Linked DNA regions of Homo sapiens: regions 1, 3 and 4 are each reported to be linked to region 2. Evidence: microRNA targets listed by miRTarBase, many of them from high-throughput screens and not tested one by one. Region 2 holds a microRNA gene; each other region holds the end of a gene's coding sequence.

The links. The annotated mature microRNA hsa-miR-6507-5p reads GAAGAAUAGGAGGGACUUUGU and lies in region 2 at 2,947-2,967, opposite strand. An mRNA with a match to its seed (bases 2 to 7 or 8) in the 3' UTR can be bound and repressed. Matches are read on the target gene's strand: a 7mer-m8 pairs with bases 2 to 8, a 7mer-A1 pairs with bases 2 to 7 and ends in A, and an 8mer does both.
Region 1: the mRNA of AGO4 is a reported target of hsa-miR-6507-5p. Seed matches in the 3' UTR shown: 7mer-A1 at 2,901-2,907.
Region 3: the mRNA of MAK16 is a reported target of hsa-miR-6507-5p. Seed matches in the 3' UTR shown: 8mer at 5,552-5,559.
Region 4: the mRNA of LUC7L2 is a reported target of hsa-miR-6507-5p. Seed matches in the 3' UTR shown: 7mer-m8 at 719-725 and 7mer-m8 at 843-849.

What each region holds. Positions count from the first base shown.
Region 1 is chr1:35,852,770-35,859,890 of GRCh38, reverse strand. AGO4 (argonaute RISC component 4) reads right to left here. Exons shown (of 18, transcript NM_017629.4): 18 at 2,001-6,394. The coding sequence ends at 6,286. Among named protein-coding and RNA genes, the nearest start is that of AGO1, 27 kb to the left of the region's middle.
Region 2 is chr10:98,921,597-98,928,717 of GRCh38, forward strand. It overlaps MIR6507 (microRNA 6507), which reads right to left and starts at 2,972; the gene lies at 2,903-2,972. The region is part of intron 3 of HPSE2 (heparanase 2 (inactive)); the gene reads right to left.
Region 3 is chr8:33,497,482-33,504,578 of GRCh38, reverse strand. MAK16 (MAK16 homolog) reads right to left here. Exons shown (of 10, transcript NM_032509.4): 10 at 3,317-6,147. The coding sequence ends at 5,950. It overlaps TTI2 (TELO2 interacting protein 2), which reads left to right. Exons shown (of 8, transcript NM_001102401.4): 5 at 644-831; 6 at 1,007-1,150; 7 at 4,089-4,251; 8 at 5,302-5,857. The coding sequence ends at 5,406. Among named protein-coding and RNA genes, the nearest start is that of TTI2, 12 kb to the left of the region's middle.
Region 4 is chr7:139,421,874-139,428,994 of GRCh38, forward strand. It overlaps LUC7L2 (LUC7 like 2, pre-mRNA splicing factor), which reads left to right. Exons shown (of 10, transcript NM_016019.5): 10 at 290-1,581. The coding sequence ends at 467. It overlaps FMC1-LUC7L2 (FMC1-LUC7L2 readthrough), which reads left to right. Exons shown (of 11, transcript NM_001244584.3): 11 at 290-1,581. The coding sequence ends at 467. LOC100129148 (a long non-coding RNA gene) reads right to left here and starts at 5,653. Exons shown (of 3, transcript NR_033999.1): 1 at 5,528-5,653; 2 at 1,412-1,512. It also overlaps a transcript of KLRG2 not described here. RefSeq lists an enhancer at 4,895-5,531.

The DNA.
Region 1 (7,121 bases), not on the chromosome of region 2:
GGACACACGCCTTGTGATGGTGCTGATCAGTCTGTCATTCCCCTACTTACTGGCCACCGTCCCCCTAGGACGGTGGAGTGGGCCCACAAGCCATTCCTGACTGATGTAACACATCCCCGAGAAATTCAGGGATGGACATGAGTATGACACAAGTGGTGGGGGGTGAGGTGGGAATAAGGCCATTTGGACACACGTGAATCATACGAAATAATGAGGGTTCTGGCTGGGTGCGGTGGCTCATGCCTGTAATCCCAGCACATAGGGAGACTGAGGTGGGTGGATCACCTGAGGTCAGGAGTTGGAGACCAGCCTGGCCAACATGGTGAAACCCCGTCTCTACTAAAAATACAAAAATTAGCTGGGTGTGGTGGCACACACCTGTAATCCCAGCCACTTGGGAGGCTGAGACAGGAGAATCGCTTGAACCTGGGGAGGCGGAGGTTGCAGTGAGCCAAAATTTCGCCATTGCACTCTAGCCTGGGTGACAGAGTGAGATTCCATCTCAATAATAATAATAATAACAACAACAAATTTTCTATAATAAAGAGGGATCCTATCTCCCAAAGAAGGAGTAAGGGAAAGCATTTGACCCAGCCTATCAGTCACTTTTTATTGATATCTTTATCCCAGCAACACTGTTTTTTTCTATTTTCCAACTACCCCATGGTTTCTGACTATAAAATGACTAATCAATAACAAGATCTTTCCTTTAATTTTACAAGGAAAAATTCTTGGAGTTGAAGCAGTATTGATACAATGCCCAGCAACACTCTGTTCCTGGGATAAAGATATCAATAGAAAGTGACTGACAGACCTGGTGCGGTGGCTCACAGCTATAATCTCAGCATTTTGAGAGGTCAAGGCGGGAGGATCGCTTGAGCTCAGGAGTTTGAGACCAGCCTGGGCAACATGGCAAAACACCATCTCTACAAAAAAATACAAAAATTAGCAGGGCATGGTGATGCGCACCTCCTGTAGTCCCTGCTACTCAGCAGGCTGAGGTGGCAGGATTGCTTGAGCCTGGGAGGTCAAGGCTGCAGGGAGCTATGATTGTGCTACTGCACTCCAGCCTGGGTGACAGAGTGAGACCCTGTGTTTAAAAAATAATAATAAAATAAAAAAAATAGGCCGGGCATGGTGGCTCACGCCTATAATCCCAGCACTTTGGGACGCCAAGATGGGCGGATCATGAGGTCAGGAAATTGAGACCACCCTGGCTAACACGGTGAAACCCCAAATCTACTAAAAATACAAAAAATTAGCCGGGCGTGGTGGTGGGCCCCTGTAGTCCCAGCTACCAGGGAGGCTGAAGCAGGAGAATGGCGTGAACCCAGGAGGAGGAGCTTGCAGTGAGCCGAGATTGCGCCACTGCACCTGGGCGACAGAGCAAGACTCCGTCTCAAAAATAAATAAATAAATAAATAAATAAATAAATAAATAAATAAATATAGTGACTGACATATAGTAGGCACTCAGTGTTAATCTCGCTGCCTCTTCCTCCATCTCATGCCAAATTAGAATGAATTCTTTGAATAATTTTTTACTCTTCTGTGTTCCCAGCACCTAGGCAGTACATGGCATGTACCCAGTTCATGATAAATGTTTGATAACTGATAAATATGGTGGAGATAGTATACAGATGGAAAAAACAACCGCCTTCTAGTAGAGTTATATGCAGAACTTTCTCCTCTGGCAAACTATAAATTCCCTAAGGAATTGTCCCTGCCATGACTTAGCAAAAGGACTTGCTGGTGAGAATTTTTCTAAAGATGAGACTGGATAGCCCCAGGTTGGATGAATTTGAGCAGCTTCTCCTCTGGAGAAGTTAAGTCTTATAAAGTGTGTGGCCACACTGCCCTCTGGAGACTGCAGATTCTTCTCAAGCATTGCTTAAATAGATCTTCCCATTAAGAGCCATATCCAGAACTCTGATCAATTTTGTAAAAGTTTTCATAAGTGAAGTGTTGCTGAAAAGCTCTTCTAAAATTCTCAAATAGAAATTTCTTTTTTAAAAGTTTTATTTTAGTTTTAATTGACACATAATAATTGTATACCAAATAGCAATTTTTAAAAATAGGGAGACCCAAGAGTTAAAAACACAAAGTTTTTCCACTGTTCTTTGTAAAATTTCTCATACTGAGGAAACTGTTTTTATAAAGCAACCATGTATGTTGCCATTACAGTGTACTGCATACTTATTAGACAATTGACAGGAAAAACAACTTTTGGCACAAGAATGCCAATTTATTCCTTTTTTGGACACATAAACACAAAATATCCCTGCAGGCCAAAAAAAATTGCAAAATTTAAACGACCATCATCTTATCTCAACATGAGGATACAACCCCTCCCTTAATAGTTTAGAAAGTACCTCGTATTGCTAGAGACATACATCCAGTCCAAATTTAATAAAATACATTTTAAAACATTACAGGTCTAATAATATAGAAACAAAAATCACACCATTAGTCAAATGAACAAATGCAAACATTTTCAGCCACTAGACGTAGAAAGAGCATGAATATGTCAATAGCAAGGCATAAGAAAATGGTTAATCAATAACAAGATCTTTCCTTTAATTTTACAAGGAAAACTTCTTGGAGTTGCAACAGTATTGATACAATGCCCTCAGCCTCCACTTTCTTAAAATGAAAGCAGAGCTACCACCTTGCTATTGAGCAAGAAAATATCACAGCACATTCACAAAAGGTCGTTAGGACAGGGTGGAGAGGGTGAGCCTTGTTAAACAGTGGATTATATTTTCCCACTTGAAGGGTAGGCAGCTTTGCCAGGTAGGCAAGCTCTGATAGAGGCTGGGCACCAGATCCTAAAACACAGACCATATAGAACATGTCTGCTTGAAAATCATCACCTTTGGAAGCAGCAAATAGAATTTACAGTAAGAATGAATATGTTCTGCTGCCCAGAACGCTGGCTGCATTAAGCCAGCTAGTTCACTTTATAAACCATTCAGGATTCAACAGCTAAGAACACCACCACCAAAACATAATTGGTTCAACATTTGGGTCATCACCACTCTCTTAATGTCCCCCCCCCCCCTTTTTTTTTTTGAGACAGAGTTTCGCTCTTGTTGCCCAGGCTGGAGTAATAGCTCACTGCACCGTCCACCTCCTGGGTTCAAGCAATTCTCCTGCCTCAGCCTCCCGAGTAGCTGGGATTACAGGCATCCACCACCAGACCCAGCTAATTTTCTGTATTTTTAGTAGAGATGGGGTTTCACCATGTTGGTCAGACTGGCCTCGAACTCTCGACCTCAGCTGATCCGCCCACCTAGGCCTCCCAAAGTGCTGGAATTACAGGCGTGAGCCACCGCGCCCGGCCAATGTCCCCACTTCTTATCCCCAAATTATTACTCTTTAGCGTTGCTACATTTAAATCTTTCACACCACATGACAGTGCCTCAACAGGCTGCATTTAAAAAACAAAACCAAAACCAAACCAAACAGCCTAAAACTACTTCTAGAGAATGCACACCTCCCATTGATTGACACATGCATAACGATTCAGTCAGTCCCGAGGGGGTTACCTATTCAAATTGTCAAGCCGAATTAAAGTAAAACTATGCATTCAGACTTGCTTGCAATCATATTGCTGCAACTCTGATTCTGCAGTGATTAGCTCTAAAGATTCACCCCTCAGCAAGTTTTTGCCAATAATCCCAGCTCTTCCAAATTTCTTTCCTTTTGTCCAAAATGACAGCATTGCACCTTTAATGGTACTATTTTCCTATAAAAATAGGCCTCCCGGCTTTTCTTCCACCACCACACTGATTTACCCCAGTGTACCAGGACTGACTGAGGTCTTACAAGCTGTATTGTTCGAGGTCGAGCGTAGAGCAAGACAAGCTAATCAGGGCTTTCGGGAACATAGCCTTGCTCCCTGCTCCATACATGCCAGGAGATGGTGAGAAGTGATGCTTCTTCTGTGCGTTATTAATAAGCAAGCCCGAGGCACTCAAGTGCAGGTGTGGTGCCCGCTGGCCAGCCAGCCAGTCACCAAGAGTTCTTCACATCTTGGATTCCAGCAAGTCCTCCTTCTCCTAAAAAAGCTTCCGTTTTTTCCTCCTCTTGGGTCCAGAGTGGCCATGCTGAAGGGTATTCTCTGTGCTCTCCCTGAACAAGTGTGAATAAAAGCAGCAGCCAAGCAGCCAGCCCCTCACCAACATGTCCTGATTTGTATTATCCAAGTGAGGTATTTGCAAAAAAAAAAAAAAAAAAGGAAAATTTTAAGAAATTAACATCTGCCATCTCTTCACTCCTGGCTATGTTGTGCTTCATTTTACAGAACTTGCTTTCATCCCACTATCTGCAGGGATTAAGGACGTCTGCACTCAGCTTAATGAGCAACAGGCCTCGATCGACATAAAACTCTCTCAGAGACCAGTCTCAGCAAACACAGGTGGCGCCGTTGATCAACAGCACATGGAAATGTAAACTTCAATGTATTTACAAGTTTATTTAAACGACTGAAGAAAAACAGTGCTTTATATTGCTGGGATTTTGAGAAGGCTAGTTTATGAGATTTGGACCGTCTCATGAGTTCAAGCAAACACCCTTCACCATCATTTCCCCACCAGCAGTTTCCAGGCAGGGGCGGCAAAATTGTTTTCACCCCATTGTGTCTATCTCTTTCCCTAGCTCCTTCCTCAGCCATATAGAGTGTGGCTCCAGGCCTTTTATCCCCTTTTCCATCCCTCACTCCTGATGTCCTGGATAGAGAATTACAAGTCAGTAAACTCTGGGCTGGGAAACACTGGCTGGTGCTACCAAGACACTATGTAACTGTTGTCCATTCACAAAGTATTATCTACACTACATACAGAATACATTTTCCCCTACATTTTAACTGATGCTCGCTTTAGAGCAACTCCCTTTGTTTGGACAAGAAAGGAATCCCATCTCCCTGTGAGTGGAATCCAGAATCTATTAAGAAAAATCAACCTTTTCCACACAGTTTTAGTTTAATAAAAGGAAGGAAAACCCACCAAGTACATTTCATGTCGAAAGAGAAGCAAAAAATTTGTACTGCAAGTAGTCGTGTGAGTTACCTTGATTCCCAGGAAAAGAAATTTTAAATGCTGGTACATTTGCAAGTTGCAGCATCACTCATTGTACCTTAAGGACTGGCAAAGCCTTTCCAATAAGGAAGCATCCTGGTTCTAGCTTATTTTAAAACAAAGTGACAGGACACCAACTGTGAATATAAAACAGGTAAAAATAATTCTTTAAAAAGGCATGGAAATATATGTCTTTTCTGACTGGTTTCAGAAATTGCCAGATTATGATATATAAGAAATAGCTGATAAAATCATACTGAAATCTCATCTAGAAAACTACATTGTTGGGGAAGGAAGAGGAGAGACCTTAAAAAATGTTTATTGCCAAAGTTAAGTTTCTATGAGAAAAGTTTAAAAATCATTTAGATTTAACAAACCACACAGCAGCATAAAATGGGCACTTTTGAAAACTTGGAAAAATACTAAAAGCAATTTTTTTTTCCAAATAGGGGAAACATGAGTACTTTTATCATGGCAGTGTTATCTCCGTCACTGTGACATGCATTACATCTGTTTATGTCACACATTCACAAAAGTCGACCAAATAAGAGAACTGCCTATTTGAATCTGCAGCCAAATATAGTGCAAATTGCCTGTCAGCATGTACTTGCACCAGCACAAGTCTGCAGAGATCAATAAGATAAAGTAGTAAAACTAATAAAACTCTGTAAAACTTTCAAAAATTAATGCTCATTAAAGGCATTTACAGTGGCAAAGTCAGAAATCTTCATTAAAAAGTCTATGGACCCACACAATTAAATAGTTACACTGAACTGAAGTAGATTGTTTGGTTTTTCTCTCCCACTTATGCATATACCCCACTCAATGACTACAGAAAAAAGGAATAATCTTCTCTTCTAAGACTAGAGGGATGCGGTGAACACCACAGCTAGCAAAATATTCCATAGAAACCCTTCTTGTAAAGTCCTTTAGAAAGTTCAGGCTGATCAGCCTTTGCACATTGAGGTAAAAATTCAGTCCAGTGCATCAGAAAAGATAATCTATTAGTATCTATTACTTTAAAAAAATGGCTCAATTTTGTTGACGCATCAGACAGTGCTGCAAAGTATAGATTCAGTGCAACTATTCCGAGCTGCTGGTAGAAGACCACCTGAAGTCAACGTGGCTCGATCTAGAGGCGGTAGGCATTTGAAACATTTTGAGGCTGCATGGGGTGCCAAATTGGTTGAGTTCTTTTTCTGAGACTCTCAGGCAAAATACATCGTGTGCTGGGTATCATGGTGGATTTGCACAGCCTTAGCCAAGGCCTGAGGATCCCGGCCGTTGCTCTGTCCTGACACATGACTGCCTTCCGCACTGTAAAGAGAATAAAACAAAACAAAACAAAGCAAAACAAACAAACAAAAAACCAAAAACAACAACAACAAAAAAACAAAAAACAGGTGTAACAGAAGACCACTTCAAACTTCACACGTTTCAAATAGCACAAACAGTACTAGATTCTAGAATATCTTAGGCTTAAGCTTTAGCTTCTTGAATAATTTGTTATGTCCTTCTAAATATCAGTTGACTCAACTGAATTTCTTTTTTTTTTTTTTTTTTTTGAGACAGAGTCTCGCTGTCTCCCAGGCTGGAGTTCAGTGGCGCAATCTCGGCTCACTGCAAGCTCTGCCTCCCGGGTTTACACCATTCTCCTGCCTCAGCCTCCCGAGTAGCTGGGACTACAGGCGCCCGCCACCACACCCGGCTGATTTTTTTGTATTTTTACTAGAGACGGGGTTTCACCATGTTAGCCAGGATGGTCTCGATCTCCTGACCTCGTGATCCGCCTGCCTCGGCCTCCCAAAGTGCTGGGATTACAGGCGTGAGCCACCGCGCCAGGCCAACTGAACTTCTTTAATGAGCTGCTGCAAGAATTAAATAATATAATGTCTGCAAAGACACAATCCTTAACAGTATCCATATAAAGATTTCCACTGCCCACTATGTCTGGCTAATTTCTTTAGGCTTCAGTCAAATGTCATTTTTCTGCACAGAAATCTTCTTTGACTTTAAGGTCCAGGTCAGAGCCACCTGGAACATG
Region 2 (7,121 bases):
ATAAAAACACATCTGTAAACCCCCAATTTTAGTGACTGGAGCTTTGCATGGTTCATTAGCACATACTCCTTTGCCCAACTGTGACATCACTTATCAGCAGACCTTCTCCTTTCATATTCCCCAGCAGCTGAGGCCAGTGCTCCATGAGGACATTTTCTGAAATCAATGCAGTCACAGATTTCTTCCCACAGGTGCAGGAGAAGCTTATTAGGTGAATATCTTTCATGGAGTTCTGTCACCTACACTCTTGTTTCTCTTTTAAAGTAAGGGTTAGTAACTATAAATAAGTAGGTGCCAATTCATGGGGAGAGACTGGTGTGCTGCATGCAAGTGATTAGCTGTAAGGAAAGGGCTAAGTCTCAGATCTGCACTCTAGACCTGTGATGTCCAACAGAATTACAATGTAAGTCACAAATGCAAGTTACATTTAAAATTTTAAATTTTCTACTAACCACAAGAAGAAAAAATTAACAGATAAAATCAGTTTTAGTTAATAGAAATGATTTAATTACCAATATATCTAAAACATTCTTTTAACATGTAATCAGTATAAAATTATTAATGTGATTTTTAATATTTTATACTGTTTTCAAAATCCCATGTGTATTTTATACTTGCAGCACACCTCAATTTGGACTTGCCACATTTCAAGTGCTCAGTATGTCCATGTGGAGAGTGGTTACCAAATTGGATAGTGCCCTTCAGGGGAGCTGGACTGGGAAATGACAAAGTTCTATAAAAGACCAAGACACTGTTATGGATGTTTGTCATTTTGGGGTACCTAGCATCTTTTGAACACTCTTTCTGTCCTGGGGTAGCTTGCATATTATGAGTCTCATTTCATGAAGATACGAGGGAGAACTCAATTTCTCAGATTCCCTTTCAGCTAATGCATTGGAAGGTAACGCATGCTTGACCAGTCAGAAACAACCATATGAGATTTGAATTGTAAACAGAAAAAAATGAAGAACATGGCCCTGTATACGTGGAATTAATTTTCTGGCAAGGCTGATGGTGAAGGTATCCAGCTTTCATGGGCACCAATTGGGGTGATCTGATATCTAGTACTCAGAATCCATAAATACATGGTATAATATACTTCAAGTATGGCCAGCAGCAGAGACAGTAGGGGCCTTGCTGGCACCATTCCAAACAAACACGGAAAAAGAAAACTAAAAAAACTCCACATGTTAACTTAGTGCCCTGGCTTTTTAACTTCTTGTTGTTTCTCTTTATGTCTTATTGTACTGTCTATGTCTTGAAAAGTTGTTGTAGCTGTTATCTTTGATTGGTTCATCGTTTATTCTTTCTACTTTAGTCAAGATAAGTTTATACATCACAACTACAAAGTTATACTATTCTGTGTTTTTCTGTGTGCTTACTATGGTAATAATGAGTTTTATATCTTCAGATGATATCTTGTTGCTCAATAACATCATTTTCTTTCAGATTGAAGAACTCTCTCTAGCCTTTCTTATAGGATAGGTATGGTATTGAAATCCCTCAGGTTTTATTTGTCTGAGAATGTCTTTATTTCTCCTTCAGGCTTAAAGGATATTTTCTCAAGATATACTAATCTAAGATAAGAGTTTTATTCTTTCAGCACTTTAAATATCTCATGCCACTCTCTCCTGACCTGTAAGGTTTGCACTGAAAAGTCTGCTGCCAGACCTATTGGAGCTCCACTGTGTGTTGTTTCTTTTCTCTTGCTGCTTTTAGAATCTTTCTTTATCCTTGGCCACTGGGAGTTTGATTATTAAATGCCTTGGGGTAGTCTTCTTTAGGTTAAATCTGCCTGGTGTTCTATAACTTCTTCTACTTGAATGTTGATATCTTTCTCTAGGTTTGGGAAATTCTCTGATACTATCCCTTTGAATAAACTTTCTATCCCTATCTCTTTCTCTACCTCCTCTTTAAAGCCAATAACTCTTAGATTTGTCCTTTTCAGGCTACTTTCTAAATCTTGTAGGCATGCTTCATTCTTTTTTATTCTTTTTCCCTTTTGTCTCCTCTGACTGTGTATTTTCAAATAGCCTGTCTCTAGGCTCACTAATTCTTTCTTCTGCTTGATCAATTCTGCTATTAAGAGACTCTGATAAATTCTTCAGCATGTCAACTACAGTTTTCAATTCTAGAATTTCTGATTGATTCTATTTAATTATTTCAATCTCTTTGTTAAATTTACCTGATAAAATATTGAATTCCTTCTCTGTGTTATCTTAAGTTTCTTTGAGTTTCGTCAAAACAGCTATTTTGAATTCTCTGTCTGAAACGTCATATATATCTATCTCTCTGGGATTGATCCCTGGTACCTCATTTAGTTCATTTGGTGAAGTAATGTTTTCCTGAATGATGTTGGCACTTGTAGAAGTTCTTTGGCATCTGGGCATTAAAGAGTTATGTATTTATTGTGGTCTTCACAGTCTGGGCTTATTTGTGCCTGTCTTTCTTGGGAAGGTTTTCTAGGTATTCAAAGGGACTTGGGCCCCAAGCCCAATAATACGGTGGGTTTTGTACACTCATAGAGGTACTGCTGTGGTGGTTGTGGGTAAGATCCAGAAGAATGCTCTGGATTACCAGGCAGAAACCCTTGTTCTTTTCCCTTACTTTCCCCAAAACACATGGAGTCTCTCTCTCTCTGTGCCGAACCACCTGGAACTGGGGGGTGTAGTGATGCAATCACCCCTGTGGCCACCACCACTGGGACTGTGCTGGGTCAGACCCAAAGCCAGCACAGCAATGGGCCTTGCCCAAGGCCCTTCCCGTCAGGGTAGTGAGTTCTTGTAGGCTCCAGGTGTGTCCAGAGATGCTGTCTGGGAGCCAGAAGTTGGAGTCAAAAACCTTAGAAACTTATGTGATGTTCTATTCTACGGAAGCTAAGTTGAGGGAAAGGAAGTAAAGTGGAGGGAAAAATAGGAAGGACTTTGCATGGTACTGAACCACAATACAAAGTCCCTCCTATTCTTCCCTCCCCTTTCCACAAGATGTAAGACAAAGTACCCTTTAACTTTGATCTCCTCTCCTTAAACGGAAAGAAACAGTCACTTCCATTGCTACAAGCTGCAATCCTGGGTTTGGGGGAGGGATGACTTCTCTTTACTCTCCCATAGCTGTGCCAGCTGGTGTCTCCCTAGGTCATGTTCCACTCCTAGTTCACTGGCTTGAAGCCCAGCCTAGCACTAGGAGTTGCCTAGGAATTGCAGTCTTTGTGTCCTAGACTGTCTTTCAAGTTTACCTAGGACCCCAGAGCACTTTAGCCCTAAGTGGTGAGGTTTGCACAGAAACTCAAGTTTGGACCACTGGGATGGGTGACCCCCCTCTGGCTAGGGCTGGTCCAGATGCTCCCATTGTGCACAGGCAATGGCTGAGCTCAATACAGCTTTATTCTCCACTGTAACAGGGCAGCACTGAGTTCAATGTAAAGTCGCCCAGCAGCTGTGCTCTCCCTCCCCAAAGTGCTCAAGTTCTCTCTCTGCACTGCATGGCCACTGCTAGGGGATGGAGGTGAGGTGGTGTCAGTGATTCTAAAGTATCTCTTCTGCCCTCCTCAATGCCTCTGTCGTTAAATCCAAGTACTGTGAATATGACGTTAAATCCAAGTACTGTGATTGCACACTTGATTGTTGGTTTTTGTGATGGGGCTTTTCTGTGTACAGATAGTTGTTAAGATTTGGTGTTCAAGCCAGAGGGACAAACAGTGAAGGCTTCTATCCCAACCATCTTGCTCCACCTCCCTAGATCTTATTTAAACCTTTTATTTTAATTGGCTTTTTTTTTTTTGACACTGCTCTGGCAGGGTATAAGTGAGGGCACTGCTTTGTTTCTGCCAGGTGGATGTCAAAGTCCAGGTTGCCCATTCAGCCTTCATTCACACCAAAGGGAGGCTCCTCATTATTGCTGAGCAGGTGGGTAAGTTCCACATCTCCAGAGTCTCAACTAATACTGCAGTGAAGTGGGAGGGTGTTCCCTCAATATCAACCAATGGGGATGAAGTGCAGGCTCTCTACTTGGACACCATCCTGGCAAGGATGTTGCAGGAGCACATTAGAGTTTCATGAGGGTAAGTCCAGGCTCCCTACTCAGCCTTTGTTTGTGTGAGAAATAGGACACAAATTTTTTATGACATTTGGCTAGGGTGGAGTGGTTATTGTGTAAAACCTTTCTGTCTTGCTAGATTGGTCCTTTATTGTTCTCCTTGGCTAGAGAAAACTGGCTTTTGTTGGGGTCTTTTGTGTTTGTATTCATTGAGATTTCCAGGTTTCCAGCTTCTTCAGCGCCAAGTTTGGGATATTAAAGACAAGAAGAAAACCCAGGGAACTCACCATCATGTTGTTCCTTGGGTTCTTGGCTGACTTCTTTTCAACCTCTGAGTCTTCTTACATGTTTTTTATATATAATATTTAGAGTTTTTAGTTACCCTTAATAGGAGGAATAGGGGAAAGTATATTTACTCTGTCTTTTTGGCAGTAGAAGTAGGTGTCATTGCCTTTTAAAATACTGAATATACATTCTTTATTATCTATATCCCCCTGGTAGAAAGTGAACCTCAAAAGGGCATGCTTTTTGTATGGCCATAGTAACTTATTGAATGAATTTATAAAGCCACAAATGCGTGCTATTGGAAAATACATCATTTTTAAGTTTTATTTTTTAAATTGGTGCTGAACCAGTGGGAGGAGGTCTGAAGGTCAATAGGAATGAAGGAAAGGTCTACATAAGAATTACAAGTAGGAGACAAAATTAATATTAAATATAACCAGATGGTAGTGAAACAGAATTTACAGAGCTCAACTGAGGGAAGGTAATGGTACAATACAGCTAGGATTACCCACTCTTGGAAACAGATCTAATTTAGTCTCCTTCATGATAAGCAAGCACTAAATAAAGCATGAGAAAAAGGAGGCATGCTTCATATTAGCTTTTTGGGTAGTAGAAAAAGTTTGGTCCCCTTAAACTGTCACCAACCTGTCTGCCTAAATACCTTTTTATTGTCTTCCCTTCTAATCACTCTCTCTCCAGCATTGAAAACAATGCTCAAATATCAACCTGTCTTCAAGGCACCAATAAATAAGCATGAGACATACTTTTCCCACCAAGCCCACAAGGTAAAAAAATTTTAAAAGGCAGTGATTAGGACACATTAAATTAAAAGTTGTGATACATCTTGTCCCTTACTTATCCTTATTTTTCCCATGCCAGGAAAAGTCTGCTCCCAAACTGTAAATTAAAAGAAAAGGAACATCTTTATTTCTACCTTCATTTCGTTATGTACCCAGTAGTCACTCAGGAGCAGGTTGTTCAGTCTCTATGTAGTTGAGCGGTTTTGAGTGAGATTCTTAATCCTGAGTTCTAGTTCGATTGCACTGGGGTCTGAGAGACAGTTTGTTATAATTTCTGTTCTTTTACATTTGCTGAGGAGAGCTTTACTTCCAAGTATGTGGCCAATTTTGGAATAGGCGTGGTGCTGAAAAAAATGTATATTCTGTTGATTTGGGGTGGAGAGCTCTGTAGATGTCTATTAGGTCTGCTTGGTGCAGAGCTGAGTTCAATTCCTGGGTATCCTTGTTGACTTTCTGTCTCGTTGATCTGTCTAATGTTGACAGTGGGGTGTTACAGTCTCCCATTATTAATGTGTGGGAGTCTAAGCCTCTTTGTAGGTCACTCAGGACTTGCTTTATGAATCTGGGTGCTCCTGTATTGGGTGCATATATATTTAAACCACTGCTCAAGGAAATAAAAGAGGATACAAACAAATGGAAGAACATTCCATGCTCATGGGTAGGAAGAATCAATATCGTGAAAATGGCCATACTGCCCAAGGTAATTTATAGATTCAATGCCATCCCCATCAAGCTACCAATGACTTTCTTCACAGAATTGGAAAAAACTACTTTAAAGTTCATATGGAACCAAAAAAGAGTCCGCATCACCAAGGCAATCCTAAGCCAAAAGAACAAAGCTGGAGGCATCATGCTACCTGACTTCAAACTATACTACAAGGCTACAGTAACCAAAACAGCATGCTACTGGTACCAAAACAGAGATATAGATCAATGGAACAGAATAGAGCCCTCAGAAATAATGCCACATATCTACAGCTATCTGATCTTTGACAAACCTGAGAAAAACAAGCAATCGGGAAAGGATTCCCTATTTAATAAATGGTGCTGGGAAAACTGGCTAGCCATATGTAGAAAGCTGAAACTGGATCCCTTCCTTACGCCTTATACAAAAATCAATTCAAGATGGATTAAAGACTTAAACATTAGACCTAAAACCATAAAAACCCTAGAAGAAAATCTAGGCATTACCATTCAGGACATAGGCATGGGCAAGGACTTCATGTCTAAAACACCAAAAGCAATGGCAACAAAAGCCAAAATTGACAAATGGGATCTAATTAAACTCAAGAGCTTCTGCACAGCAAAAGAAACTACCATCAGAGTGAACAGGCAACCTACAAAATGGGAGAAAATTTTCGCAACCTACTCATCTGACAAAGGGCTAATATCCAGAATCTACAATGAACTCTAACAAATTTACAAGAAAAAAACAAACAACCCCATCAAAAAGTGGGCAAAGGACATGAACAGACACTTCTCAAAAGAAGACATTTATGCAGCCAAAAAACACATGAAAAAATGCTCACGATCACTGGCCATCAGAGAAATGCAAATCAAAACCACAATGAGATACCATCTCACACCAGTTAGAATGGCAATCATTAAAAAGTCAGGAAACAACAGGTGCTGGAGAGGATGTGAAGAAATAGGAACACTTTCACACTGTTGGTGGGACTGTAAACTAGTTCAACCATTGTAGAAGTCAGTGTGGCGATTCCTCAGGGATCTAGAACTAGAAATACCATTTGACCCAGCCATCCCATTACTGGGTATATACCCAAAGGACTATAAATCATGCTGCTATAAAGACACATGCACACGTATGTTTATTGCGGCATTATTCACAATAGCAAAGACTTGGAACCAACCCAAATGTCCAACAATGATAGACTGGATTAAGAAAATGTGGCACATATACACCATGGAATACTATGCAGCCATAAAAATGATGAGTTCATGTCCTTTGTAGGGACATGGATAAAATTGGAAATCATCATT
Region 3 (7,097 bases), not on the chromosome of region 2:
AAAAGATTGGATACCCCTGGCCTAGGGATAAATCCTAGCACTTTAGGAAGCCAAGGCGAGTGGATCACTTGAGGCCAGGATGGTGAAACTTTGTCTCTACTAAAAAATAGAAAAGTTAGCCAAGTGTGGTGGTGCACACCTGTAGTCCCAACTAGTTAGGTGGCTGAGGCACGAGAATCGCTTGAGCCTGAGAAGCGGAGGTTGCAGTGAGCCAAGATTGCACCACTGTCCTTCAGCCTAGGTGACAGAGTGACTCTGTCTCACAAAAAAAAAAAAAAAAAAAAAAAAATGTGTAAATATCATGTATCACTAAGTCACTTAGACTTAGTGACATAGTAACAGTAGACTTAGATTCCTAAAATCTGGATTAAAGTCCCAGCTCTGCCATTTTTCCGATTTTATAAATTAGCAAAGAATGGTCCTGAGGAGAATGTATTGATTTGAGACTGTCAGATGGAGATTAAGAATGTAAAAAAGTTTGAAAATGTAAAGTAATGTGCAGTTCATATATGATTACTAGTATCTTAGAATTCTCTGGTATGGACCCTAAGGACGGTAGATTAATGAAGTTCTAGAGAAGTCAGTGAGTATTGTAAATGCAAATGGATGAACTATGCACCGTCCTTCCATTCCTTCCTCCTAGGCTGTGCTCCTGTGTCTGCTGGATTTATTCCCCATCCTGGAGAAAACCCTGCACTGGAAAGGAGATGGAGCTCGACCCACCACCCATTGTGATGAGGTCCTGCGGCTGATCCTGACCCACATGGAGCCAGAGCACCGCCTTCTTTTACGCAGGACCTACGCAAGAAACCTGCCGGCTTTCGTGAACAGGTGAGGCCCTGGGCTTTTATTTATTATTATTTTATACAGACAGGATCTTGCTATGTTGCTTGAGCTGCTCTCGAGCTCCTGGCCTCAAGCAATCCTCCCACCTCAGCCTCCCAAAGTACTGGGATTACAGGCATGAGCCACTGCACTGGCGTCATATTTTCTCTTTCATCTTTAGGTTGGGGATCCTAACTGTCCGGCACTTAAAGAGGCTGGAGAGAGTCATCATTGGTTATCTGGAGGTTTATGATGGACCTGAGGAGGAAGCTAGACTGAAGATATTGGAAACCCTAAAACTTCTCATGCAACATACTTGGCCCAGGTAATAGCAGCCTTAAGGTGCAAAACTCAGCCGATTTTCTCTTGAGAACTTGCTTGGATGTATTTAATACATTCAGTACAAAGTATTAAATGTATACTATGTATTTGAATACCTCCCATTTTCACACACCTATAGGATTTTAAACTGAGAAAATGGCATTAGAAAGATAAAATATACTATAGTTACTTGAGGTGCTCATAGTTGACTCTTTTACCAGGTATCAGTTCCAGATTCTGACAGTTAAATCGCTTCTCTTTGAAACTCTAGTATATCTTTTTTGTTTTTTTTTTTTTTTTTTTTGAAATGGAGTCTCACACTGTCGCCCAGGCTGGAGTCCAGTGGCGCGATCTCTGCCCACTGCAACCTCTGCCTCCTGGGTTCAAGTGATTCTCCTACCTCAGTCTCCCAAGTAGCTGGGATTACAGGCGCCCACCGCCAGGCCCGGCTAATTTTTTGTATTTTCAGTAGAGATGGGGTTTCACTATGTTGGCCAGGCTGGTCTTGAACTCCTGACCTTGTAATCCACCCGCCTTGGCCTCCCAAAGTGCTGGGGTTACAGGCGTGAGCCACCATGCCCAGCCTTTTGTTTTTGTTTTTGTTTTTGAGATGGAGTATTGCTCTGTCACCCAGGCCGGAGTGCAATGGCGCGATCTCAGCTCACTGCAACCTCTGCCTCCTGGATTCAAGTGATTCTCCTGCCTTAGCCTCCTGAGTAGCTGGGATTACAGGTGCCCTCCACCATGCCTGGCTAATTTTTAAAAAATTTTTAGTAGAGATGGTGTTTCACCATGTTGGCCAGGCTGGTCTCGAACTCCTGACCTCGTGATTTCCCCTCCTCAGCCTCCTAAAGTGCTGGGATTATAGGCGTGGGCCACTGTGCCTGGCTATATATCTTAAGAATGGTTTAGATTGGTGTTTTGCAGAATCTCCATCTAGGTACTCTTTGATGCCCCACAGGAAAAAAAAAAAAATTCTGTGGTCAAATAGGTTGGGAAACCATACAGGTTGTACCTCTCTCTAGATTTAGAATGCATATTAGAAGATTAAAGGTCATTTAGAAGTGTTGCAATAAAACATTTGCTTAACTTTGTTAATCCTAATGTTCTTTAAATCTAATTGAGAATAGAGTACTTCATAGCACATCATTTAACATCTGCAGAGCAGTGATCAGAATACCAATCTAGAGGCCAGGTGCGGTGGCTCACGCCTGTAATCCCAGCACTTTGGGAGGGCAAGGCTGGTGGATCACCTAAGGTCAGGAGTTCAAGACCAGCCTGGCCAATATGGTGAAACCCCGTCTTTACTAAATATACAAAACTTAGCCGGGCATGGTGGCGCGCACCTGTAGTCCCAGCTACTCAGGAGGCTGAAGCAGTAGAATCACTTGGACCCAGGAGGCAGAGGTTGCAGTGAGGTGCAATGGAACCACTGCACTCCAGACTGGGTGACGGAGCGAGACTCTGTCTCAAAATATAAAAAAAAATAATAAAAATTTAAAAAAAGCATACTAATGTAGGATATACTTGCTTGGAAATCATTCCAACTCTGGCTTGAGGTAGGTGTCAGGAACTGGAACCCAAACTGTGGAGTCAGCAGAAGCATCTCTTGCATAGCTGAAAATTGAATTCAGCCAGAGAATCTAGTGCCCCAACAACATACAGTAGCTATTCTGCACCGTATTCTCTCACTTCCTTATAAATGTGCAAGGAATCCAGAGTAACATTTCCCCATGACAACCTTTCCCTTAGTCATATTGGTAACTAGGTTGCATTTGTTTACTATCTTTCTCCCTACGGAATTATAATCTCCAGGATAACGGAAAACCACATCTATTATATTCTCCCAAAGTATGTTCAGTACCTAGTATTAGGTATACAAATATTCAAAGAATGAATGGACTGGAAGAGAATGAATCAATGGATGAATAAAATCGAATCAGATTGTCAGGTCTTTAAAGAGCAGAGACCAAGATTCCAAGAAGGGAGAGTGAATAAATGTAGGGAGGTAGAAAAGGAATATGTGTGTATGCGTATGAGGGGGTGAAGCATGGGAAATGGAAAACAGAGCCGATTATAAGTTGAATAACGAGGGCTGAGAGGCACCCAAACCATAGGAAAATGAGGAGTATTTAGATAGAGATGAAAACTTTTTTCTCCCAGTCACGCATCTGTCCATAAATATGATTTATTGTACATTTCACATTGTATTTTCACATTGTAAGTTAAATTATTTTCCACCTTTCATTAAAGTTTTTTTAGGGTTTTTTGTTTATTGTGGTAAAAATACATATAAATTTTCCATTTTAAAGTGTACAGTTCAGTGGCATTAAGTACAGTCACAATATTGTGCAGTCACTAGCATTGTCCATTTCTGGAGCTTTACCAAGGCGATGAAAACTTTTAGAAAGGTTAATAGTTACAAGTAAGTAGGCTGGACTTCACTGATGATGAGCTAGGATCTGAAATTAAATGACAGAAAATTCAACTTGACACAGTCCCAGAAGCCAAGCTCATTTCCCTCACTCTAACTTCCAGGCCTAAGATGGCATTAAAGTTAAAGGATTCAGGGCTCTCTCCAAGCATAGTTCAGTTAATAGAGTTGAAAAATAAAAGTATAGGCCCTTGGTTGGGGAGATCCTGGTTTCCCCTTCTCAGCCCATGAAGGAGCTGTTGCTTACAGTAGAACCAAGCTTCTGGAAGGAAGAGAGCAGTGTGGCAGAGGGTGTGTCTGTGTGTATAGGCAGTATGCTAACAGGAGACTTGAGGGTAAGAAATCTAGAGGCTGTCTTTGGTTCTGTTTTTAGGTCTTTTTCATTTAACTTTGACCTAAGTTCCTTAATTTAGGAAATGATAGCTTTCCACTTGACAGTCTTTGAAGTCTCTTCCAATTTTAATATCCAGATTTAGAGTATGAACATAGCTTTTCTTCCTGATTCCAGAGTTTCCTGCAGACTTGTGGTCTTACTGAAGGCCCTCTTGAAACTGATTTGTGATGTAGCAAGGGATCCAAACCTTACACCTGAGTCTGTTAAGAGCGCCCTGCTACAGGAGGCCACAGACTGCCTGATTCTCCTGGACCGCTGTTCTCAAGGACGGGTAAAGGTAAGGCAGACTGAAACTTGGTTTCAGTTGGGCCTCATTATCCTTATGTAATTCCCATGATTGATTATAATTTACTATGTATGTGCCTGACCAAGTCTGGAAATGAACATGGAGGGTTTTAGATCTCCATATGAGCCCTCTAGCCTCAAAAGAGCTTGATCTTTTTTCTTATTCATCTTTTAAAGCTATTCAGAACCATTTAGAACTAAAGGCAGGAGGATCAGCACATGTCACTGGGGCTAAGGACGAGACAGTATGGGCAAAAGCATTATGATCAAAAGTTTGTAAAATTTAAGTTCTGTTCTAGTCTTCTGAATTAAAAAAAAAAAGTAAAAATAATGGGCTATAAGCTCCCAGGAATAATAACATAAATAGAGCATTTCAGATGTTTCCAGTTTTTTAGGGACAACCATCTTTTAGGTAGATGTTTTTCCCTATTCTTAATTTATCTACATGGAAATTCTTCCTTTGGTTTCATATTCCACAAAAGTTAACTTCTCAAAGCCACAGCATATAATAGCTGTGTACTTCTATGTATTTAATAAACTACTGCCTCATTTCTTACCCCTTTTAGAAATCTTTAGTTGAAGATTGAAGGTAGCATGAAAAGAAATTCATGCCATAAGTCACTGGACAATCTACCCAGCAGGAAAAAAAAATTCATATCCTAAAAATATGTAGAGATAGTATGAATTGTTATTTTACCAGTTTATTCAAACTATTTCATCTTAGCTCTTTAATCTTGGGCAGTTTTCAAGCCCTAGATCCAACTGAATTTGCCTTGGCTGGAATTCTGCTGTTTCATGAGCCAGCAGGAGATTTGCAAGTACATTAACACAGTTTTTAAAGTAGCACCTTCAATACATGAGAGCTATATAAATTTAAAAATAATAAAAAACCAACTAATACCTATTCTGCTTAGTGACCTGTCCCTAAGTGTCATCCATTCTTTCCTCCTTTGAATATGATACCAAGGAAGAAGAATCAAGCAAAAGGGGAAAGTAATTAAAAAAAAAAAAATATCAAAGCCTGTTTGGTTTCATGTTTCAGGGTCTCCTGGCCAAAATTCCCCAAAGCTGTGAAGACAGAAAAGTGGTGAACTATATCAGAAAAGTGCAGCAGGTTTCTGAAGGCGCACCCTACAATGGAACTTAAGACTTGTATTACTTTCCCAAGAGGAAAGGATTTTCTTCCCATCCCAATTTGTATGAATGGAGTTATTTAAGAAAAAAAGATATTTTTACACGAAACTTTGTAAGTGAAAGCTGCTTTTTCCTTCCTTCCTTTCCTTTTACCTCCATAAGAATAGGGAAAGTAGAACAAGAAAAAATTGAACTCCTTCCATTTCTAAATAAAGTTTGGGAGAAAAAAGGACACCAAGTAATGTAGCATTTAAAATTTAGAAATATTTACATCCGTCATCTCATCCCAGATTCAAGAACTCATCTGTTAAGTTTCTCGGGCACAAGCTGTTACTTCAACACATATGCTATAAAAACACTCTTGTTCACAACTTAGCTTTCTTCACTCACTCCAGATTTCTTGCCCCACTGACGTGGCATAAATAATAAAAACACAAATATTGTGTTCAGTACAACACAAAAGAGCAAAAACTGGAGGTGTGTATGTGTTTAAGATAAAAAAAAAAAAAAAACAGTTCTGCATGTTCAGTCCTGGGTATAAATGCTGAAAGGGAAATCACGTGGTTTTGGCTTTGGCCACGGGCTCTGTCTCCTGCTCGTATTCTATTTCCACATAGGCTCGTTTTCTCTGCAGTGGTCCTCTCAAGGGCATTTTGCCTTTGTGTTTCGCACTAAGGGCCTTTTCTTCCTCCTCCTCACTGGAGGATTTACCATCCTGATCTTCATCACTGCTGGCATCCAGTTTATCCATATCCTATTACGGGGAGAGAAAAGATAAAGGAAGAGGGAAAACACTAGATTTCTCCAAACTCCCTTCCTTGTCCCCTCAATCTAGAACAGACTAGGGCATTGATTTGTCTATGTCTGTGTTCAGAAATTGTCCCTTTCTTTAATTTTTTTTTTTTTTTTTTTTTGAGACGGGGTCTTGCTCTGTTGCCCAAGCAGGAGTGCAGTGGCATAGTCATGGCTCACTGCAGCCTCAAACTGCTGTAGTCAACAATCCTCCCACCTCAGCTTCCTGAGTAGCTGGGACTACAGGCAACCGCCACCACATCCAGCTGAATTTTAATTTTTTTTTTTTTTTTTTTTGGAGACGGAGTCTCGCTCTGTTGCCCAGGCTGGAGTGTAGTGGTGCGCTCTCAGCTCACTGCAACCTCCATCTCCTAGGTTCAAGCGATTCTTCTGCCTCAGCCTCCCAAGTAGCAGGGATTACAGGCATGCACCACCATACCTAGCTAATTTTTGTATTTTTAGTAGACACGGGGTTTTGCTATGTTGGCCAGGCTGGTCTCGAACTCCTGACCTCATGTGATCCGCCCACCTCGGCCTCCCAAAGTGCTAGGATTATAGGCGTGAGCCACCACGCCTGGTCATGATTTTTAAAAAATTTTAGGCCAGGCCCTGTGACTCATGCCTCTAATCTTAGCACTTTGGGAGACTGAGGCAGGCGGATTACCAGAGGTCTGGAGTTCTAGACCAGCCTGGCCAACATGGTGAAACCCCGTGTCTACTAAAAATACAAAAAATTAGCCGGGTGGAGTGGCACATGCCTGTAATTCCAGCTACTTGGGAGGCTGAAGGAGGAGAATCGCTTGAACCCGGGAGGCTGAGGCTGCGATGAGCCCAGATTGCACTATGGCACTCTAGCCTGAGCTACAGAGCGAAACTTCATCTAAAAAAAAAAATTTTTTTTTTTATTAGAGA
Region 4 (7,121 bases), not on the chromosome of region 2:
ACCTTTTATGAATTGGAGAAACTCTGTGTTGTCTCTGAGATGAGAGTAGCCTGTAAGAAATTATTTTAGCCTTCTGACCCTCTGCTATTTGTTTTTCACCCATCTTCTTGTTTTAATGCCCTTATCAACTATGGTAGTGCTCTGTAATTTGTCAGAAAACTGACTCCTCTGTCATGGGTATATTCGTCTATATATCTTCAGCTATCAAGAGCTTAATATTTATCCTATTCTTTAATTTGGGTTTTTGGGTTTCCCAACATATTTTGCTCCTCAAATTAATATTTTTCAGATCCTCAAAAGAAAGATTCAGAGACCAAGACTTAGCATCATGTGACAGAGACAGGAGTTCAAGAGACAGATCACCTCGTGACAGAGATCGGAAAGATAAGAAGCGGTCCTATGAGAGTGCTAATGGCAGATCAGAAGACAGGAGGAGCTCTGAAGAGCGCGAAGCAGGGGAGATCTAACTAGCTGTGTACATTTCTTCAGTCCTTAAGCTTCCTACGGAGTTACGTACTATTGTTTAGTTCACAGCTGTTCAGGGTGACAGTGAGCAGATCCAGACACCAGATCCAGCTAGGCTAGATGTACAGTATCTAACTTGATCTGAACTGAACCTGTTTTCCTTGATGATGCCTAAAACTACATCCATAGTTTCTGGTGAACCTGTAATACAGTTCTGAAAGTACAGTTTTATATAATAAGATGCTGATCTCTTTATTCTTTCAAGTAAGAGTGCTAGTGAACAAATTGTGTTACTTGCCTTGGGATTTTTTGAACGTTTGTAAAATGCTGTCTTCCTAGTCCAAACAGCTGCAGCTTTGGGCATTTTTCTTTTTAATTATTCTTCCTCTGACTTTGTATCCCTTAATACCTACACTCTCCAATTGTAAGAGAAAGGGGGCAGGGAAGCAATATAGCTTCCATTCTAAGGCTGTATTCCCGTTATGAATTACTAGCTGATTACAGTTCAGAGCATTGATCCTGGAATGTGTGCTGGAGAAATTTAAAATACTGGGGTTTTTTGTTTAATGGTGCCTATTTAGAGTTGGAAGTTGAACAGCTGTTGCATTACATACTTTTGCTTTTTTATTGAAATTTTGAAATCAAACGTCTTGATTTTTCTGTTCTGTTGAATTGCTATGTTCAGGATGTTCTAGGGGGTGGGGGCAGGGACTCTTTTCGTAATAAGCACTTGTTTTATTTTGTGTGTGTGGAGTATAAAGGCTACACCCTTATTGTAAAAAAATAATAATAATAAAATGAAAGAAACAATCACCACCACCATTATTAAACTGTAACTTGTCTAGTAAATTGTCACTAGAACTATTTGCTGTGGGCATTTCCTCTATTCTGTTACGTCATTAACAGTGCCTTACTGTGCAAGGCACCAAAGGACATAAATACGTACTTGCAAAGATTCCAGATGAGCTGTTCATGTGGGCCCCTTGCTGACTATATTCCAGCCACTTCAGGGTTGTTTGTAATGACCGTTATAGAGAAGGGCTCGACCTGCAGAAGAAACTGGGGTGTTTTTATTCTCATTCAACAAACCCAAATAAAAACAGTATATGTAACCAACATAATGAGACTTAAGTTTCTGCCTTGAAGAGTTGTATATCCGTTAGTAACTTAAACTGTAATTGGCAGGTATCACTTGTGATTCTGGAAATTCTGAGGAACACAGATTCCTTAAGTAATGAAATTAGTATCTGTGGGTATCATTAACTAAGGTCACCTTTCAAGAACTGTTAATGTCCTTTGTCCCCAAGTTTGACAGATTTGATGTCAGAGGCATGTGGGCCTCTGTGAAGGTGCTGAGAGAATGGGAAACTAAGGCCATTCTAAGTGATACCAGATTACGTTAAAAACCCTCATCAAGTTCCCAATTTACCAAGCTATGCCTCATTAACTGAGGGTTTTCTGCTGTATTTGGTTCCACACATGCAATTTATATGGCATTTAATCTGAGAGACCCATCTGCCTCAGTGGCCCATTTCCCTTTTATTTTTGGTTGCTAAGAAATGTTTTGTATCTCCTTTGTTCCGGGTAGTCTGTGCTGTTCTAAATCCTTACAAGCACTTCAGATTTCGTACATTGGGGTTCGGAGTAAGATCAAAAGGACTAGCTGGTTGGTGTGAGGAAGAATGTCTGGGACCTGGCCCATTATAATAGTATATCTGGACTTAGATTTTGAACTCTAAAGCATATGTACAGTTGGAATGGAACACTTGTAGAAGTAACACAGGTCTATATATCAATGGTTACTGCAGCTGTGGTTTCTAGATGGTATAGGCTGCCCCAACATGAACAGGGCATAAAGCGCACCATCACTGTGGGGCTGCGTGCCACAGCGGACCACTTCAACCGCATGGCTCTTTACATGATTGATGCCACTGAATTAGAATAAAATCTCAAATCTTAATATCACTTTCTCATACACAATTTTTGGTCTTTCTGTGTTGGTGACTGGTAGAAAGCATAAGTAAGTATATTGTATTTGCAAAAAACTTTTGTCCCTCTGGGGAGTGTTTTGCTAAGTTTTTACCTTCAGTAAGGTTTCCTTCATTTTGCTGTCATCAAGTATTACCCTAAAGCTCCTTTGCTGAGCTTATCAACACCAACTAAAACTAAGGAAAAAAGCCTCCTTAAATAGGTATGTTTTTTATTTTTTTGAGACGGAGTTTCACTCTTGTTGCCCAGGCTGGAGTGCAATGGTGCAATCTCAGCTCACTGCAACTTCCGCCTCCTGGGTTCAAGCAATTCTTCTGCCTCAGCCTCCCGAGTAGCTGGGATTATAGACGTGCACCACCACGTCCGGCTAATTTTTGTATTTTTAGTAGAGACGGGGTTTCGCCGTGTTGCCCAGGCTGGTCTTGAACTGCTGGCCTCAGGTGATAGGCCCGCCTCGGCCTCCCAAAGTGCTGGGAGTATAAGGCATGAGCAACCCCTCCCTGCCCTACCCCTGCCAGGCTTGTTTTTTTTTTTTTTTTTTTTGTTTTTTGTTTTTTTTTTGTTTTTTTTTTTGTTTTTTTTTTTTTTGAGACGGAGTCTCGCTCTGTCGCCCAGGCCGGACTGCGGACTGCAGTGGCGCAATCTCGGCTCACTGCAAGCTCCGCTTCCCGGGTTCACGCCATTCTCCTGCCTCAGCCTCCCGAGTAGCTGGGACTACAGGCGCCCGCCACCGCGCCCGGCTAATTTTTTGTATTTTTTTTTAGTAGAGACGGGGTTTCACCTTGTTAGCCAGGATGGTCTCGATCTCCTGACCTCATGATCCACCCGCCTCGGCCTCCCAAAGTGCTGGGATTACAGGCGTGAGCCACCGCGCCCGGCCCAGGCTTGTTTTTTAAACAAAGACTTTCTTACCTGTGATTATTAGACCTAAAACCAATATACCTTTATCTTTTCCAAGTTCCCTCTTTCCCCTCCATGTTACATTTTAAGCATCTATTTTTAGTGATAGCTTTCAACATTGGCCTTTTGAGCCATCGCCCAGTATGCATTACAATTTCCACAAACACTTTTGCCATTTGATGTCGTAAATTCTTTCAAAATGGTTTTTAGGTAATGATTATGTACATCATTTAAGTTTTTCCGAATAAATGCTGATTATAATTGTTAAATGTTCATAGGTTTTTTTTTTTTTTTTTTTTTTTTTTTTAATGTAAGGTCTTCCTGTGTCACCAAGCTAGAGCACAGTGGCATGATCTTAGCTCACTGCAACCTCAATGTCCTGGGCACAAGTGATCTTCCCACTTCACCCTCCCAAGGAGCTGGGATTATAGGCACGTACCACCATGCCCAGCTAATTAAAAAAAAAAAATGTGTAGAGGCCGGATATGGTGACTCATGCCTGTAATCTCAGCATTTTGGGAGGCCGAGGCAGGCAGATCACTTGAGGTCAGGAGTTCAAGACCAGCCTGGCCAACATGGTGAAACCCCATCTCTACTGAAAAAAAAAAAAAATTAGCCAGGTATGGTAGCACACACCTGTAGTCTCAGCTATTCGGGAGGCTTAAGGCACGAGAATCGTTTGAACCCGGGAGGCAGAGGCTGCAGTGAGCCGAGATCGCACTCCAGTCTGGGCAACAGTGTGAGACTTCATCTCAAAAAACAAAACAAAATTACCGGGCATGGTGGCACATGCCTGTAATCCCAGCTACTCCAGAGACTGAGGCAGGAGAATCACTTGAACCCTGGAGGGGTTGCAGTGAGCCGAGATGGTGCCACTGCACCCCAGCCTGGGCGACAAGAGTAAAACTCCCATCTCAAAAAAAAAAAAAAAAAAAAAAAATTGTAGAGATGGAGTCTTGCTTTATTGCCCAGGCTGGTCTACAACTCCTGGGCTCAAGCAATTCTCCCACCTCAGCCTCCCAAGGTGCTGAGATTACAGACATGAGCCACCACATCCAGCCCATTTATGGATTTTTTAGCTTTAAAAATCTAAGTAAATATTACATATTTTTAAAAAAAAACCCACATGCCTAATGTGGATGTTCAGCTTTTACGGCTATCCCACTTGTGAAACCATTGAAACATGTCCCTTCAAGTGGTAAATTAGCTGCTGCCCTGGGCTAGTTGAGTGCCTGCCGCCAACGCAAGACCAGCAAGCACAGCCAGGAACGTCCAGAATTAGTTCACTACCACATGCTGTACTGACTTAAATAGTTTGAAACACATTCTTGTCTGTTTTGTATCTGAAAAAGCAGAAGCTATTTGATGTAATAATGATTTTCTTTCAAAAATGGTTTTTAGGTAATGGTTATCTACCTTTAAGTTTTTTCAAATAAATGCTATGGGGTTTGTTTTTTGTTTTTCTTTCTTTTTTTTTTTTTTTTTTTTTTAAGACAGGGTCTCACTGTGTTGCCCAGGCTGGCGTGCAGTGGCGCAATCTCGGCTCACTACAGCCTCAACATCCTGGGCTCAGGCGATCTTTTCACCTCAGGCCCCTGAGTAGCTGGGACGACAGGTGTGTACCACCATGCCTGACTAGTTTTAGTAGAGACAGGGTTTCATTGTGTTGGCAAAGCTGATCTCCAACTCCTGAGCCCCAGCGATCTGCCTGCATCAGCCTCCTAGAGTGCTGGGACTACAGGTGTATGCCACTGCGCCCAGCCTACATCACGATTTTATTATATCTTGACTGTTGATAATTAAAATTTCCTGGGATATAAATAAGGCAATATGAAGTTGCCCTTTCTCAGTATTTTTCTTTGTACTGCCTGTTATTTGAAAAAGCATTTTCTCCCTCAGGGGAGTTAGGAAAGGTTAGAGAGCTGAGAGAACAGGGTTTCCCTGGGCAGAGGCCGAGTAGGGGAGAGCAGGCAGGGGTCTGTCAGCAGAGTAGTACTGGGGCCATGCATGAGTGGGGCCTTGGGGGCTCTAGGGTCAGCAGGCAGCACACTGGCATGTTCTCCAGGTAGCAGCAGAAACATTAGGGTGTTAGAGGTTTGGGGTCTGCAGGCATATCTGGGGATCAGAACAAGCTAATGGCCAGCATTGGCTGAAGCAAGGCTTTGAGACTCACAGAATTGGGCTGTCAGTCAAGCAGGGATCTAAGAGATGGGGCCAGCCAAGCAGAAGTCAAAGGCTGGTGCCAGCATCAAAATCTGCTCTGATGCTCCTTTGGGAGACTGATTCTTCAAGTCTCAAATGCTGTTCACACCTGTCTCTGGATGCTGTTGGCTACCTGTAAAAGAAAATACATTCAAATGGGCTTAAACTCTGAAGGGACCTTAGCAGCTCGTGTGATTGAGTTGCATGCCAGCTCCATATCTTGGACTAGCATCTGAGCCCTATATCCATATGAAGAGAAACCATTTCATCTTGTGTCTCTTAAGAGCAAGGCAACTTTTCCCAGAACCTCTCGCAACCTTTTTCTCACATCTCTGTCCCTGGCACAGAGACCTACATAGACGATGCCCGATGAATGTGGAATGAATGAATGAAGTGCCTCATGTTTTCCAACATAAATTAACTCACACGATCTCATTTGATTTGTATAGCAATCCTGTGGTTACTCGAAGGGACCATATTCTATCACCATCATGCCCGTTTTTCGGAGTAGGAAGCTGAGGCATGCTGAGTGACTAATAGGACAGAGTCAGCCGACACCTTTTTGATTCTAAGTGAAAGGCTCTTTCTGGCATAAAGTATTGTGACAGGTAGGATTCAGCTGGGAGTGGCAAGAAGGGAGGGAGCAACAGAAATGTCCATTACAAAAAAGACTGAAATGAATGAAGCAGGATGATAACTGCAAGTACTGTCCCATTTCCAGCACCTTTTATTCTAGTCTCATGGTATCTCTCAAGCTGATTGTAACAGATAAAAAACCGATAGTTATCCAAATAACATGGTATATAGGAGTTACCATTTTTTGTTTTTTGTTTTCAGACAGGGTCTCACCATGTTGCCCAGGCTGGGGTGCAGTGGTGCACATGGCTTTCTATAGTTTTGACCTCCTGGACTCAAGTAATCCTCCTGCCTCAGCCTCCTGAATAGCCCTGCCCCCACCCACCACCCTCCCACTCAGCTAATTTTTTAAAAAATTTTTTAAATTTTTTTTTGCAGAGATGGGATCACACTATGTTTCCCAGGCTGGTCTCAAACCCCTGAGCTCAAGTGATCCTCCCACCTTGGCTTCCCAAAGTGCTGGGAGTATAGGTATGAGCTACCCTGCCTGGCCAGTTACATTTTTTGATTTCTTGATATTTTTGTTCAGAAAGTTTAATTTACTTGAAATCAATATGACAATCTACTAGGTAATGAAACACAAAGGAGACTGAAGAGATGATAATCAGTAAAAGGGCTTGAACTCTGATTGGATCTTTGTTTAAAAGGCTGGAATAATGAGAAATTAGGATATGGATTGAATATGAATTTATTGTTAATTTTATTAGGTATAATGGTGGAATTGCCATTACATAGAAGAATATTCTTAGGAGATAAGTGCTAAAGTATTTAAGGATGAAGCATCTGGATGTCTGCAGCTTACTTTTAAATAGTTCAACAATTTGATAAACACATAAAGAGCGGGTGTAACAAATTGTTCACTGTTAGATCTAAGTAGATCACTGGTTTTTCAACTTTTGTGTATTTTTGAAAATTTTCACAAAGTTAGG